Regions from separate parts of the Homo sapiens genome. Here region 1 is linked to region 2. Evidence: fine-mapped expression QTL. A gene starts in region 2. The other region holds a variant in brackets. All regions are shown on one strand. Distances are between the middles of the regions. Region 1 has its middle 19 kb from the start of CAPN10. Region 2 holds the start of GPR35 (G protein-coupled receptor 35).

The links. PIP is the estimated chance that this variant, and not a neighbour inherited with it, causes the effect.
Region 1: its variant is fine-mapped to the expression of GPR35 in kidney cortex (GTEx, PIP 0.91).

What each region holds. Positions count from the first base shown.
Region 1 is chr2:240,601,356-240,609,480 of GRCh38, forward strand. It overlaps a transcript of GPR35 not described here. Among named protein-coding and RNA genes, the nearest start is that of CAPN10, 19 kb to the left of the region's middle. The variant A/C (reference allele first, on the strand shown) is at 4,080.
Region 2 is chr2:240,622,276-240,630,389 of GRCh38, forward strand. GPR35 (G protein-coupled receptor 35) reads left to right here and starts at 3,205. Exons shown (of 2, transcript NM_005301.5): 1 at 3,205-3,293; 2 at 7,674-8,114. The coding sequence starts at 7,678. RefSeq lists enhancers at 2,402-2,551, 3,159-3,665 and a silencer at 7,837-8,114.

The DNA.
Region 1 (8,125 bases), 21 kb before region 2:
TGGTCTACCAGCTGGAACCATGTTCCTGGGTGTGGAAAACGCTCCCTCCGAAGCCTGCGGAGAGCCCTGAGGCCTTGTGCTTCCTTCTGATGGGAGGTTCCAGATGCAGTTGGAGGGGATGTCTGGCAGGGCTCTAACCCCCAGCCAACCTAAACATTTCTGGTGCAGAAGGCCCCGGCCTGGTGTTGTTTGTCCCTGGCTGCCTCCTGCTCTGACACCATCAGCATCCTGTTGCCAAGGTCATGGATCAGTGCGGTGCTCTTCAGGGTGTCCGGCCAGCTGGGGTCTCTGTCCTGTATTCCGGCAGAGGCCCCAGGAGAAACAGCAAATGCCTTTGTCCATTCCATACAAATTTCATATAAATGTGAGCAGCTTCTGATCTTCCGTGGCGTATTCGTCCAGTTGATGGCCAACCCTGGGTACCTGGACCTCCAGGACCTGCTGCACTGGGCTGCCCCTCGGCTGTGTGTGCACTCGCCACGTGGCCCTCCAGGAATCCCATCCCACGGGGCCACACTGAACCAAATGGAGAGAGCAGGGCCACCACCCTCTCTCCGCATGCCACGGCTGCTCTGGGACCCGGGCAGGAGGGGACAGTCTTGGCCTTCCAGTGTCCCTCTTGGCCTTCCCACGGCCATCTCTACCCCAAGGATGCAGCAGAGATATCGGTCGCTCCCCAGGTGTCAATCCCAGTCACAGGCTCAGAGACCGGGACATGGCCCCGGGTGGGTCTGTAGGCCCTGTGGGCTCATGTGAGCTGGTCCTGGGCAGGACTCCATTATTAACTGCCTGTGATGTGTCCCACTGTCATGGAGCCCTGGTGACTCTTGGGGACCAGCATCAGCTTGGGGCCTGTGTGCTCAGTGGCTCCCAGATGCCTGGATATTCTCTTCCTGGTGCACATAGTCCCCGGGGAGGTCCTTGTCATGCACACTTGCTGATGTGGGGAGTGTCCTTCATCTTGCAGGCCTGGCCACCTCTTCAGTCAGCAGATACCTGGGCTGAAAACCGACTCGGGCAGTGTGGGCCCAACTGGGGCTCTATCGGAGTGACCACCCTCAGCCCTCCTGGACCCCTCTGCCGGCTCCACCTGAGCGCTGCCCTCGCTGGCAGCCCTGCCTTGCTCTGCTGCCATTCCGTAAGCCCTGCAGGCAGGCCCCTTGGCGCCCTTCAGCCGTGTTCATGATTGTCTCCTGGCCTCTGCTGTTTAGAGGTCTAATGCCCTCCGCCCCCGGCGAGCCAAACCCAGTGATGGTGGTTCCTGCCACCAGCTTCCTGTGGCACCGCTGCCACTCCCGCCAGGCTCCTGGGGCACCGCCACCACTCCCGCCAGGCTCCTGGGGCACCGCCGGCCACTCCCGCCAGGCTCCTGGGGCACCGCCGCCCACTCCCTCCAGGCTCCTGGGGCACCGCCGCCACTCCCGCCAGGCTCCTGGGGCACCGCCGCCACTCCTGCCAGCCTCCTGCGGCACAGCTGCCACTCCCTATTAACCAGCATGGCACAGGTGAGCGGTGTGACCTTGGTCTTCCCAGGGAACCAGTGCTTGGCAGCTCACACCACACACGCCTACGCCTACCCTCCACCAGCCACAGCAGTTGTGGCATCTCTACCCTGCCCAGCAAAAGTGGAAGTGTTGCCTGTGCCGCTAGGAACCTCCAGGTTTGCTCCACCTCCAGGGGCCTTGCCAGGGTGTCAAACCTGTGTCTCGGGACACTGCTGTTAGGTCTCCAGCTTCCCTATCAGGCGCCTCAGCACCCAGTCCTACCAGTGCTCCCGCCTCCCGTCCCCAGCTGGCTGGGCCTGCAGCCCCCTCCTGTGCCCCGAGCTGGCCGGGCCCGCAGCCCACTCCCTGGTCACTGGATGTTGCTGACACTTCACTCGGTCAGAGCCCTAGCACCCAAGGGGGGCCAGGGCCTGACGGGGGTGGAGCGAGGGGTGGGCCGCGTCTGTGCAGGCTCAGAAGCTTCCTAAGAGGCTGGAGAGTGGAACCTTCAGGCACCACGCACTGCCTCCTCCCTGCCCACGGTCCTGGTTTCTCCAGATGGGGCCTTGGCCTTGGCTAGGTGTTGATCAGGAGCTGGGAGTGCTGCGCCCCGCCCAACTTCTCCAAACTCCAGCCAGGGCACCTCAGTGAGGCCTCAGCCACCTGCGCCTTATTTGCTTCCTCCTTGGAGGCCCTCGTGTCTGTTCATTCATCAAACAGCAGCTGGGGCCCCCAGCAGACCCCCTTCCCCAACTTTCCCACTGGACACTGGAACCAGTTTCACAACTGGACTGGACAGGACGACCACCTTGTGCCAGGCGCCAGCTATCTCCCCTGACCAGTGATGGGTCCTCATTGCCCGTGGGCCGTGAGTGACCCAGTTCCAAATCCCAAATTAGTGACTCTCTTCTCCAATGGGGGTTGGATTCTCCAGAAGCAGAGGCAGACATAGAATTTGGGTGCAAGGTATTTCGGAGGGAAGGTGGAAGAGGTGGGGTTGGTGAGGGAGAAGCCTGGAGTGTCGGTGGCCGGGGTGCCCCCACCTGGCTGAAACGCCTGGTCTTTGTGCCCTGCCTGGCTCAGCCTCCCCAGGCAGACTACCCCATGGCATCCCTGGACAAGGCTGCCCCCAAGAACGCTGCCCACAGCCCAGCCATGGGCCTTCCCTTGGGGCTACCGCCCCGGCTCACACCTGCTGGCCAGCGTATTTACTCCTTGCTGGCTGCACCCTCTCAGCAGTGGCTGTGTAGACCATAACCCTGGGAACACCTGCGGGGAGAAGCGCCCTTGGCCTGGCGGCTTGGGGGAGACACCTGGGGTGTCAGGAGGGAAGGAAGGCAAGCAGGGGTGAGGCACTGTGGGACTTTTCCTGCTTTCTGGGCCAGTGGCCACAGGCCACCCAGTGACATTTCTCTCTCAGCGTCTGCTGGGGTGGACTCTGCAGCGGCTGCAGCCAGCCTGGATCGGCTCCTCGCACAGCTCTGCTTGAGGGTGAAGGCCATCTAGAAACCCTCAGTCCCCTCTCAGCCTCAGAGCTGATAGCGCTGCCTGACCATCAGCAAGCTTGTAATCAGCACCACCTCCAGCATGCCTGCTCCTGGATCTCCGTGAGGCTCCCCTGCCTGTGTCACCCAGGGGCCTCTAGGGGTGCTCTGGAGCTGGGAGCCACTGTCCAGCACTTCCTGCCCTCTCCGGCCTCTCTTGGCTGTCTGCCAAGCAGTCACTCAGTCTCCTATTGACCACTCGTTTTGCCGCAAGGCTGCTGGTTTACGTGAAAATAGAGAAAGCCAAAGAGTTTCCTCACCCCTGTAAGATTTACTGGCTCTTCTGGCATTGCACCTGCCTGAGTTCCTTGGTGGGGCCCCTCTTTGAGTTCCTTTGGGCTGCTGTAACAAAGCACCATAGCCTGGGCAGCTCGTAAACAGTGGAAATGCGTTGCTCTTTGTTCTGGAGGCTGCAAGTCCAAGATTGAGGCACTGGAAGACCTGGTGCCTGGTGAGGACCTGCTTCCTGGTCCAGAGACAGCACCTTCTCTCTGTGTCCTGATGTGGTGGAAGGGCAAAGGAACTCCCTGGGGCCCGTTTTATGTGGGCACTCATCCCATTCGTGACGCCTCTGCCTTCATGACCTCATCACCTACCAGAGGTCCCCACCTTTTCATTCCTCACCTTGGGGATGAGGACTTCAGTATGTGAATTTCGGGGACATAAATGTGTCATCTATAGAAGGGCCCATCTCTTACACAAATGCTGGGTCCCCAGTGGCCTGTGTCCTAGCAAATGAGAGCCACCCTGAAAAATAAAATCCTGTCTCCCCAACGCCAGCCCTGGCAAGGCACCCAGAACTCTCCGGAATGCTTGAAGGCAGGGCCTGGCCTTTCCATGGGGTCCAGGGCTGTGGGGTCCCTGGCGGTACTGTGGGCCTGCAGAGTGGGGCATGTGGGCTGAAGACCGTCTCCCCACCATGGTGGGAAGGGACAAAGGGTGGCCCTGGCAGATCCGGACGGGCAGGACTGGGTGTGTCCCATGAGAGCACCTCCTTCCTGGCCTTTCCTGTGGACTTTGTCCCACACCACCTGCCTGGGTTCCTTCCTTT[A/C]GTCACTTCCAGCTCCAGGCACAGCAGTTGGTGACTCCTTGGTGGGAGCCGTGTCCCACCCGGTCCTGATACTGCCGTCTTCTCTTTCACAGTCCTCCAGGCTTGGGCCAGCCTTGGGGGCAGCAGAGCTTCTGGGGTGAGTGTCGAGATCCTGTGTCCTGAGAGCGGTAGTCAGGGAGAGGGCTGGTCGGGGCAGGGCTGCCCGGGCAGGACACAGGATGCGGCCGGCCAGGCTGGGGCCAAGGTGTTCAGACCTGGACTTTGGGCTCGTGCTTTCTTCATGGTTGCGCCTTGCTCGCTGTCCCTTGGAGTCTTCATTTGGTTTTGCTTTTTTTGTTTGTTTGTTTTCACCTAATTTTTGCCAGACTTAAGCTAGTTTTGCTGCCTTTTGAAACTAGTGGAAGAATCATTTTATTCCTGGGGATAATTTGGGGCCTTTTGATCCCAACGTGAAGCCCTGCACATGGCTGCTTCATCAGGGGAAGGGTCTTTTCTGCTTTGGAGGAAAGGCTTTGGCAGGCAGGCTGACCTGGGAGTCTCCGGAGCTCTCGGCTCTCTGTAGCATCCTGGGGAGCTCAGACCATGGCTGCAGGGCTCTGGCCATAGCTTGCAGGCCATCTGGTTAGTGCTGCCCCCCAAACCCGGCCATTCCTCTCTAGTCCCCAGCAGGTATAGCCAGTGTCCACATAGACAGCACTGCCTCAGATCTGGGCTGGGACCACAACACTCACTCAGGGATCCCAGGGAACATGGCACCAGGTTTAGTAGGTTTAGTCGGGCATATGCAGTGTCCCTTACCCAGGTCAAGGCTCAGGCTGGGCCCATCTTAGCTGCCTGGGACACCCAGTCCTTTTATGAATCTGCCAGGGGAGGAGCAGCCAGGCTTGGGCTGGGGCCTGGATGGACGTGACATCGGGCACTGTGGCATTGTGTGCCTGTCTCTGTGTTGCAGCTGACATGGGCTCATTGCTCCTTCTCCAAGCCCTCTGAGGACATCAAAAGCGTGGACGCATCACTTTCCACCATCTTGCTGCCCACTGTCCCTCCATCCTGAGGCCTCCTAAGCACATGTGTGGGGTGGCAGGCACACTGCTGATAGCTGTGGATGCGGCCGTGACATCCTTCACCCCTGCCCCCATGGCATGCATGATCCATTAGGGAGGACCGTCTGCACAAAGGTAATCCATTGACTCAGACAGGGGGTTCATAGAAGAACAGGTGAGAGTGGCAGGGGGGGTATTCCTTGACCAGCTGAGGGTCAGCCAAGGGCAGGAAAGGGGCTGGGCACCCTCAGGGAATTGAAAGAAGCTCTCTGTGCCTGCAGTGCGGGGAGTGGGCTTGGAGAATATGGCAAGAGCTGAGGCTGGAGATGTAAGCAGGGGCCTTAAGTGTTGTTTAAGGAGCCTGAGTCTTATCTCCTGGGCAATTGGGAGCCACTACATAGTTTAAAGCAGGGCCTAACATACATATGTTTGAAATCTTTCTCTGGCTGAAGTCTCGAGGATGAATTGGAAGTAGAGGACCAACTAAAAAGTTGTTGCAGACATTAAGGTGGTGTCCTGGGTTAGGTGGGAGGTGATGGAGAGGAGAATAGGCTAGTGTTGACATATACCCAGGAAGCAAAACCATTGGGGCATGGTGCTTAATGCTTGATTGGATTGATCACATAGATGACTATGAGGAGGACTGACATATTTCAATCTATGAACGTGGTATACCCATCCATTTACTTATTTTTAATTTTTTAAAAATTTTTTTTTTTTTTGAGACAGGATCTCACTCTGTTTGTCCAGGCTGAAGTCCAGTGGCAGGATTTCAGCTCACTGCAGCCTCAACCTCCTGGGCTCAGGTGATTCTCCCACCTTAGCCTCCCGAGTAGCTGGGACTACAAGCACAGATCACCACACCTGGCTAATTTTTTGCATTTTTGTTTTTTAGTAGAAACAGGGTTTCGCTATGTTGCCCAGGCTAGTCTCAAACGCCTGGACTCCAACAATCCACCCACCTTGGCCTCCCGGAGTGCTGGGATTATAGGCTGGGGCCACTGTGCTGAACCCTGTCCATTTATTTGGATCTTCTTTAATTTCTCCCAGCAATATTTTGTAACTTCAAGCATACGTTTCCCACTTGTGCCTAGGTACTTTGTTTTCCAATGCTTGTAAATGGTATTGTATCTTTAGTTTTATTTTCCAATTGTTTTTTGCTAGTATATAGAAGTGCATTTTTTGGTATATTAATCTTGTATCCTGTAACCTTGATAATGCATTTATTAGTTCATAGTGTTTTTTGCTTCTTTTGTTCTTTTCTGGTAAATGCCTTAGGATTTTCTTTTTCTCCCGACTCCCCGCCTTCCTCCTCTTCTTTTTCTTCTGCCTTAGGATTTTCTTTTTCTTCTTTCTCCTCCTTCTCTTCCTCCTCCTCCTCCTCCTCTTCTTTCTTCTTTCTTCTTCTTCTTCTCTTTTTTGTTTTTAAATTGAGACAGGGGCTCACTCTGTTGCCCAGGCTGGAGTACAGTGATGCAATCTTAACTCACTGTAGTCTCAAACTCCTGGGCTCAAGTGATCCTCCCACCTCAGCTTCCCAAGTAGCCAGGACTACAGGTGTGCACCATCATGCCTGGCTAATTTTTATATGTTTTGTAGAGATTGGGTCTTGCTATGTTGCTCGGGCTGGTCTTGAACTCCTATCTTCAAGCGATCTTCTCACTTCAGCCTCCCCACATGTTGGGATTACAGGCCTGAGCTACTGTGCCAAGCTGAATTTTCTACATGCATGATTATGTCACATGTGACCATAGGTAATTTTACTTCTTCCTTTTCTATCTGCTTTTTTCCCTTGCCTTATTTCCTCTGGCTGGGACCTCCAATACCGTTTTTAATAGAAATGTGAGAGCCACTTCGTTTGTTTCTGAGTATAGTGAGAAAGTTTGGTCTTTTACCATTGCCCAGCTTGAAGTTTCCTATAGTTTATCTATAGGTGATCTTTATCACGTTGAGGAAGTTCTCTTCTCTTTCTAGTTTGCCGAGAGTTTCTATTATTCATGGATGTTGCATTTTGTCAAATATTTTTCTGCATCCATTGAGATAAATATATACATTTTACCATTTATTCTATTAATTGATGTTCTAATGCTAAAATAAACCTTTTATTTCTTGCATACTTTTTCATGATGTGTTATTTGTTTTATATATTGCTGGATTTGATTTGCTAATATTTTATTAAGGATTTTATGTCTATGTTTATGCATGATATTGGCCTGTAGTTTTCTTTTCTTGTAATATCTTTGTCCAGTTTTGGTACAGGGTAAAACTTGACTTAGAAAATGAGCTGGCCAGTGTTTCTCCTTTTTTCTGATGTGGTTAAGATTGGTATTATTTTATTCTTAAGTGTTTGATGGAATTCATCAGTAACACCATCTGGGTGAGGTATTTTCTTTGTAGAAAGGCTTCAAATTATGAATTCAACAACTTTAATAGATATAAGCTTGTTACATTTTATTTTTCTTGTGTAAATTTTGGCAAGTTGTGACTTTCAGTAGATGTTTTTCCATTTCATCAAGATGTCAAATGTAATTTCATGATGTTCTTACTAATATTCTTGTATTATTCTTCTGATGTCTGTAGGGTCTGAAGGGATGTCTCATCTTTTATTCCTGATATTAGTAATTTGTGGATTTTTTTTCTTTGATCAATCTAGCCAGAGCTTTCTCAATTTTTTTTTCTTTTCAAATAACCAATCTCCATTTTATTGATTTTCGTTTTTTTCTGCTAGTACATCAAATTTTCACTCTTTCTTATTTCTTCTGCTTACTTGGGTTTCATTTGTTCTTGGTGTTGTTGTTTTCTAGATTCTCAAAGTGGAATCTTAGGTAATGATTTTAGACCTTTCTTCTTTCCTAACATGAACACTGAGAGCTACAGATTTTCCTCTAAGCATCACACTAACCTTATCTCACAAAGACCGGAAAGTTGCATTTTTATCATCACTTAGTTCAAAGTATTTTCTTATGTCTCCTTGATTACTTCTTTGATCCCTGAGTTATTTAA
Region 2 (8,114 bases):
GCTGCTTTAGCTGTAAACATCGTATGACCATGGGCTGTGGCTGGCAGGTATGTGCCTCATTGGTCTCAAGGTGGAGCTGAACGTAAACGGCTTTTCTCTGGCTCTCCCAGGCTCCTGCTTCCCTGACATCGCCTCACAGACTTCCCTTCAAAGCAGGGCTGTCCAATCTTTTGGCTTCCCCGGGCCGCATTGGAATAAGAAGAATTGCCTTGGGCCAAACATGAAATACACTAACACTCACGATAGCTGATGAGCAAAAAAAGGTCTCTGCGTAAATCTCATAATGTTTTAAGAAAGTTTACAAATTTGTGTTGGGCCACATTCAAAGCCCGCAGCCCGAGTGTTGGACAAGCTTGCTGCAGAGGCTCCCCTAGATAGGGCTGCAGGGGTGGCGTCCGGCAGCTCTAGCTGGAGAAGCAGGAGGAGGGGCAGGAAGGAATCCTGTTCGGAGCTCCTCGCGTCACACATACAGCCCAGCGGGGTGAAGTGGGAGGGGCTGGCGCTGCTGCAGGGGGCTAACCTTGGGGGTGAGGGGGCAGCCTCGGAGAGGAAGCTGCCCAGGAGCAGAGGCTGGGGGCGGAGGGCCCCGGGCAGTGCCCCCGTGCCCACAGCAGGACCCTGGCTGCCAGTTCTCCGCAGAGGGCCAGGTGGTCTGAAGCTGCCCAGCAGGGAGAGAACAGGCCTGGCCTGGACTGGAAACCTGCCATCTGGCCTCTCGAACCTGGGGACTCCGGGTGTCCTCGAAGAAGGGCCTGAGCAGCAGCAGAGGACCCCAGGCGACCGTGCCTGAGCCGGGCGCCGACGACGACTGAGCACCTGATATGTCCCCGGCACTCGCAGCCCCGCGGCCGGAGTCGCTGTGGGTGAGCGGTCGTCGAGCTTCACAGAGGCCGGGCTCTGTGCCAGGGCCCCGACAGGGCAGGAAGCAGATAGAGTCCCACAAGCACAAGCCCAGTGCGCAGAAAGGGTTACTTAAAAAATAAGTTCTGTGATAAAATCAAACAGGGTGAAGGGCTGGAAACAGGTCATGAGGGCGCAAACAGGTCGTGAGGGCGCAAACAGGTCGTGAGGGCGCAAACAGGTCGTGAGGGCGCAAACAGGTCGTGAGGGCGCAAACAGGTCGTGAGGGCGCAAACAGATCGTGAGGGCGCAAACAGGTCGTGAGGGCGCAAACAGGTCGTGAGGGTGCAAACAGGTCGTGAGGGCGCAAACAGGTCGTGAGGGTGCAAACAGGTCGTGAGGGTGCAGCTTTGGGGAGAGAGGGGCCCTGGGGGTGAGCGGGGAGCTAGGAGAGAAACAGCGCTCTGGAGGGGCCCGGGCAAGGCCTGCCTGAGTGGGAGGGGGCAGAGCACGAGGGCCCAGGCTCCAGGCTGGGTGGGACTGCCCTGAAGTGCCTGCGGAGACAGCCAAGGGGCAGATGGAGAGAGGTAGGGGGTGGGCTGGGGACAGCGTTTCCTGTACACAGGTGGAACCTGGTGGCAAGGGGCCCTTCCCAGAGACAGTCAGAGTCTCTAAATGTCCAGTTTCTTCCCCAAGTCCACACAGCCCAGAAGAATCCGCTGGGACCATGTGGCCCTGCCCAGTGGGGCTTCCCTTCCAGTGTGTGAGGAGCACAGGTGCCAGGCCACGTCAGGGAGGCCAGGCCTGGTGGGGACGGGGTGCCCCAGGCCACTGCTGGGGAGGAGTGATGCCCAGCAGAGGGGGCACGGTGGAGTTCATGGCTGGCCTGGTGGTGGGGGGGGTGGGGGAGCTCTGCAGGGCCCTGGCTCTGGTGGGCTGGGTAGGCCTGCTTGGGGCACCATCTGATCTGCCAGAGGTGGAAGGAGCACTCCTGGGAGATGCCGTGCCCTGCACCTCCAGTCCCTGCTTGACGGCGGCCGGGCTTGGACTGATCAGGTGCCGTGCCTTCTGCTGACCCCAGAGGCCAGACCCTGTGGCCAGAGTGAGGGATGGATGAAATCCCAAATCTGAGCCTCCTGCCCGAGGATGAGGCCCCTCTCCAATGAACATCATGGCCCATGGAGACTGGGCAGGGAACCCAAGGGCGCACACTGGGGACTGGGCCTGGAGGGACAGCCGGGGAAGCAGGAGGAAGGGCAGGAAGGACAGCAGGAGGAAGCAGGAAGAAAGGGACAGGAACCAGGCCCGGGATGACAGCAGAGAAGGACCAATGCCCAGCCAGGGCTTCCTCACGTGCCTCTGGGTAGAGAGCCCTGGTCTGGCTCAGGAGGCCCAGGCACTGGTCTCAGACCTGCCACCACCTGTGTGACGCTGGGCCAAGCGCTTCCCTTCCCTGGGCGTCCGTTTCCACCGCTGTAAAGTGGGGAGGGGTGAAACTGAAGCTCTCCCCAGCCTATCCCAGCCGTTGAGGAGGGAGAGGCTGTGGTCAGGGGCTGTGGGGCCCACGTTGAGGAGACGAGGCTCCTGCCCTCAGGGTGGACAGGGCCCAGGAAGGGGGTGCTCTGCACCATGGGGGCGCAGCCTGGGCCTACGGGCTCCCCCACCATGAGCTCAGAAGGAAGATGTCCGCTGAGGAGTTGGGGGCCAGGGAGAATATTCTAGACCAGATAGGGGTGGTCTGGGTAGGCTTCTGAGGGGGTGGGCTTGGAGGAGGGGCCGGTGGCCAAGTCGGGGGGAAGCAGGGGAGGAGCCAGCCTGCCTGCGTGTGCCTCTCACCTGTGTGCATTGGCGTGTGCATGTGTGTGTGCATGTGTGCCAGCGTGTGTGTGTGTATTGGAAGGCGCCCACGGAGCGTGTCTGCATGAACCAGGATGAGTGTGCGTGCTGCACCCTGTCTTGGGGCTGGGCATGAGGCGCTGGGGAGGGCGAGCTGACCGCAGACCCTGGGAGGGCTGGGCCCTGGGAAGGTTTCCGAGATGACAGGGCAGAAGTGGGCTGGGGAGGAGGAAGGCTCCGTGGGCGGGGCTGGAGCGTCTCTGGTTTTGCTGTCTGTCTCTCACGCTGTTTCCAGAACAAATGTGTGCCCTCAGCAAGGATGCTGGCTCTTCAGAGGTGTCAGCACAGGCAGCCGGCACCCCACTTCCCTCCCAGAAATCCCCCACGCCCTCTAGCTGGGGCTGGTGCAGGAGCAGTGGGGAACTCCTGTTACCCCTGACCTGCTGCCGTCAGTCAGCCGCCCGCCCCCCCACCTTAAGGAGGGGCAGAGTCAGGGACCAGCCCTGAGGGGTGGCTCACCCCAGCTTCACTTCCCCCAGCCCTTCTCAGACAGCCACTGTGCAGGCTTTGGCAGCGGGGGTCACACACTCCACCCGGGAGGCCAAAGCTGCCTGCAGGTCAGTGCCGCCCACTGCCCTAGGGGCCTCCCAGCGGGGCAGGGGCATGGTGGGGGTCTCAGAGTGGGGTGAGGCTGTGATGGGGTCTCAGAGCAGGGTGAGGCTATGATGGGGTCTCAGAGTGGGGTGAGGCTGTGACGGGGGTTCTCAGAGCGAGGTGAGGCTGTGACAGGGTCTCAGAGCGGGGTGAGGCTGTGATGGGGGTCTCAGAGCAGGGTGAGGCTGTGATGGGGTCTCAGAGTGGGGTGAGGCTGTGATGGGTGTCTCAGAGTGGGGTGAGGCTGTGATGGGTGTCTCAGAGTGGGGTGAGGCTGTGATGGGGGTCTCAGAGTGGGGTGAGGCTCTGATGGGGTCTCAGAGTGGGGTGAGGCTGTGATGGGTTCTCAGAGCAGGGTGAGGCTGTGATGGGTTCTCAGAGCAGGGTGAGGCTGTGATGGGGTCTCAGAGTGGGGTGAGGCTGTGATGGGGTCTCAGAGTGGGGTGAGGCTGTGATGGGGGTCTCAGAGTGGGGTGAGGCTGTGACGGGGTCTCAGAGCGGGGTGAGGCTGTGATGGGGGTCTCAGAGCGGGGTGAGGCTGTGATGGGGGTCTCAGAGCGGGGTGAGGCTGTGATGGGGTCTCAGAGCGGGGTGAGGCTGTGACGGGGTCTCAGAGTGGGGTGAGGCTGTGATGGGGGTCTCAGAGTGGGGTGAGGCTGTGATGGGGGTCTCAGAGCGGGGTGAGGCTGTGATGGGGTCTCAGAGCGGGGTGAGGCTGTGACGGGGTCTCAGAGTGGGGTGAGGCTGTGACGGGGTCTCAGAGTGGGGTGAGGCTCTGATGGGGTCTCAGAGTGGGGTGAGGCTGTGATGGGGTCTCAGAGTGGGGTGAGGCTGTGATGGGGAGTCTCAGTGAGGTGAGGCTGTGTTGGGGTCTCAGGTGGGCTGAGGCTGTTGGGGTCTCAGGGGTGGCTGAGGCTGATGAAGACTTGGAGCCTGTGTCTGGGTAGCAGCTTGTTGGAGTGTGGGATGTGACATTTAAAAACAAGAATGAAGAATACCCCGTGCTGTGGCCCCGAGGTGAGCAGCTACTTTGGTGAACTCGTGTCACTCACAGCCCCATCCTGGGTCCTGGGGTGTGGTGTGCTGTGTGGGGCCCAGGCCCAGTGGGGTCACAGGTACGGGGGACTCTGGTGCCTGGGCCACAGGGATCTGCACCTCACTGCGTGCCCCCACGTCTTCAGCAGTGGTTGGGGCCTGTGGTCTCAATCCCAGGCCAGCCAGGCACTCTGGGGTCTGGGCGGGTCCCGGGTCCAGACAGGGGGAAGGGCTGGGGAGGGGCTCTGGTGTGGCTGGATCGCCCGTCTATGGCCAGGTTTCTCTCCTGGATCACTCAGTGCAGAATCAAAGGGCACTTTTCTGCTTTTGTGTGCAGAAGCCGAGGGTGACCTTGTCATCAGAAGGGGAAGCGGGGCCTCAGAGGCGTGCTGCTGGCTCCAATCCCCAAAGCCTCCTGGGCAGGAAGTGGAAGGGCCCCATCCCCACGGTCCCCGGCAGCGGGAGCTCCCTGAGGCTGATGGTGCTGGTGTCTGTCGAGGAAGACAGGCCTGAGGAGCTGAGGCGGGAGGCCAGCTACGGTCCACGGCCTGGACACAGATTCCTGTGCGGGACTGGGGCAGTAGGTGGGCATCTGTGCTGGCCATGTTAGCTCCCAGGGGCCCCATGCCATCTGGGCTAAAGCCTGGGCCTTGATTTCCTGAACTTTTCTGGGAGGCACTCCACGGGCGAGACAAGGACCCATGAACAGGGCACTTCTTCGAAGCCTACGTGCACCTCGAAACTCTTGCAACATTTGCATTTTTCTCCCTAATAGTTCAGTGTTTGTTTTATTATAAACAGGAAAATTTAAATGTTGTAGTTAGAGTTTTTTTCTTCTTCTTAGAGATGGGGTTTCACTCTGTCTCCTAAGGCTGGAGTGCAGTGGTGGGATCATAGCTCACTTCAGCCTCAACCTCCTGGGCTCAAGCCGTCTTCCTGCCTCAGCCTCCCGAGTAGCACGCATCACCAGCCCAGCTAATTTTCTGTCTTTTTTTTTTTTTTTTTTTTTTTTTTTGTAGAGACGGGGTCTCCCTGTGATGCCCAGGTTGTTCTTAAACTTCTGGCCTCAAGTCATCCTCCTGTCTCAGCCTCCCAAAGTGTTGGGATTACAGGCATGAGCCACCGTGCCTGCCTGCAGTTAAACATTCCCCCACAAAATACTGGGCCACACCGAGGCTAGTATGAAAGTTGCAGCCCTGGGTATGTGTGACCTGAGAGCCCCTTGGCAGCCATGGGGAGCGATGGGGGAAGCTGGGGCAATGGGAAGGGGTCTAGGCACACGAGCCCTCGGGTCCTCACCTCCCACGAGGCAGGGTCCCAGGCTGCCTCTACTCAAGGTGGGGCAGCAAAAGAATCGCCCTCTAGCTGTGCAGACCCCCTCCCCCTCCAGGTCTGCACACCGCCCAAGGCTGGCCCTGGACTTCTGGTGGATTCAAGTACTCAGGTGGGGAGAGTAGGAGGCCAGTCGCACGGAGCCCTCCCCAACGCACAGTGCCTGCCCAGCTCAGGTGCCTCTGAGGTGTAGATTCTGAGCAGGTTCTGGGATCTCCTGGCCCCCAGCGGGGGCTGCCACAGGAGTATAGGCCCAACAGGAAGGGAAGATCCCAGCGATTGGTTCCAGTGGGTTCTGGGGATGTCCTCGGAGCCTGGCCTGGCTCAGGGTCCCTCCAAAAGTCCCTGGAACGAGGGTGAAGTGTTGCTCATGAATCAGAGAGAAAGCAAGCAGGACCCTCAAGAAGGGAGGAGAGAGACCACTGGGCGTGCAGCACTTTGCACTCGGGGGAAGGGCTCCTGAAACTTGGAAGTCAGCAAATATCTGCTGTACTTCACCAGAGGTGGGATCTAAGGAGACAGAATGAAGCCAGGGGGCAGAATGTTTCGTTTCTGTCTGAAACCTGTGCCCTCCATCCCTCATGGACTGGGGACCTGGAGTTCCCGGGGACCACCGTGGGGAAATGCGTCCCAGCACTAATGGTCCCCAGCAGCTGCAGTCACGGGGTTTGGGCGCTCTCCCCTCCTGATTTGGGGGACCTTTTGTGCTCCTCTGGGCAGAGGGAGGAGGCAGAGGGAGGAGGAAGGCCCTTCGCTGTGGGCTGAGTCCTTCCCACCTTCCATACCAGCCCAGCAGGAAGCCACTGCAGGATGCCCCAGAGGACAGCCTGATGGTTGGGGGAGAGGCTTCTCCCGCCCTCACCCCTCCGGGTTCTTCCTGGACCCACTGAGTAACCCAGGTGGTGGGACGTGTGGCTGTGAGTCCTGGACTCTGGGCGCTCACCAGCAGCTCCGTCTCACACCTGCCTGCGTGTGACACCAGCACCCCTTATGATGAGGAAACAAGTTTGCCCAGCTGCAGGGGTGGCCGAGTCAGGATGACTCTAGCCCGTGTCCTGGACACCAGACCCTGCCCAGGTCCAGCCGGGGCTGGTCTCAGCCTTCCTGGGCTATGTCGCGGAGGGTGTTGGGGACAGCGAGAGGCTGGCGTGGACAGTGGAGGGGTGACTTTGTGGGTGGTCCTGATAGTGACGGAGAGGAGGATACTCAGCTCCACCCCTGGGCGGCCCCTGAGCAGCACGACTGGGCCTGAAGGGGCAGGGCTGCCGTCACAGGCTCTGGCCCCTGGGAGCTCAAGGGGTGAATCCCTGATCCCAGGTGTGGGACTGGGATGGGGCCTCAGGCTGATGCAGGCAGGACCTCCAGAGCTCAGGACTGGGTGGGTGGGCTCACAGGGAGGTAGGGGCAGGCCAGAGTCCCAGCTGTCCTGGACTCTGCTGTGGGGAAGGGCTGATGCAGGTGTGGAGTCAAATGTGGGTGCCTCCTGCAGCCGGGTGCCAGGAGGGGTGGAGGGGCCACCCTGGGCTTTGTCCGGGAGCCTGGTCTTCCCGTCCTTGGGCTGACAGGTGCTGCTGCCTCTGAGCCCTCCCTGCTAAGAGCTGTGTGCTGGGTAAGGCTGGTGGCCCTTTGGGCTCCCTGTCCAGGATTTGCGCTCTGGAGGGTAGGGCTTGCTGGGCTGGGGACTGGAGGGGAACGTGGAGCTCCTTCTGCCTCCTTTCCTGCCCCATGACAGCAGGCAGATCCCAGGAGAGAAGAGCTCAGGAGATGGGAAGAGGATCTGTCCAGGGGTTAGACCTCAAGGGTGACTTGGAGTTCTTTACGGCACCCATGCTTTCTTTGAGGAGTTTTGTGTTTGTGGGTGTGGGGTCGGGGCTCACCTCCTCCCACATCCCTGCCCAGAGGTGGGCAGAGTGGGGGCAGTGCCTTGCTCCCCCTGCTCACTCTCTGCTGACCTCCGGCTCCCTGTGCTGCCCCAGGACCATGAATGGCACCTACAACACCTGTGGCTCCAGCGACCTCACCTGGCCCCCAGCGATCAAGCTGGGCTTCTACGCCTACTTGGGCGTCCTGCTGGTGCTAGGCCTGCTGCTCAACAGCCTGGCGCTCTGGGTGTTCTGCTGCCGCATGCAGCAGTGGACGGAGACCCGCATCTACATGACCAACCTGGCGGTGGCCGACCTCTGCCTGCTGTGCACCTTGCCCTTCGTGCTGCACTCCCTGCGAGACACCTCAGACACGCCGCTGTGCCAGCTCTCCCAGGGCATCTACCTGACCAACAGGTACATGAGCATCAGCCTGGTCACGGCCATCGCCGTGGACCGCTATGTGGCCGTGCGGCACCCGCTGCGTGCCCGCGGGCTGCGGTCCCCCAGGCAGGCTGCGGCCGTGTGCGCGGTCCTCTGGGTGCTGGTCATCGG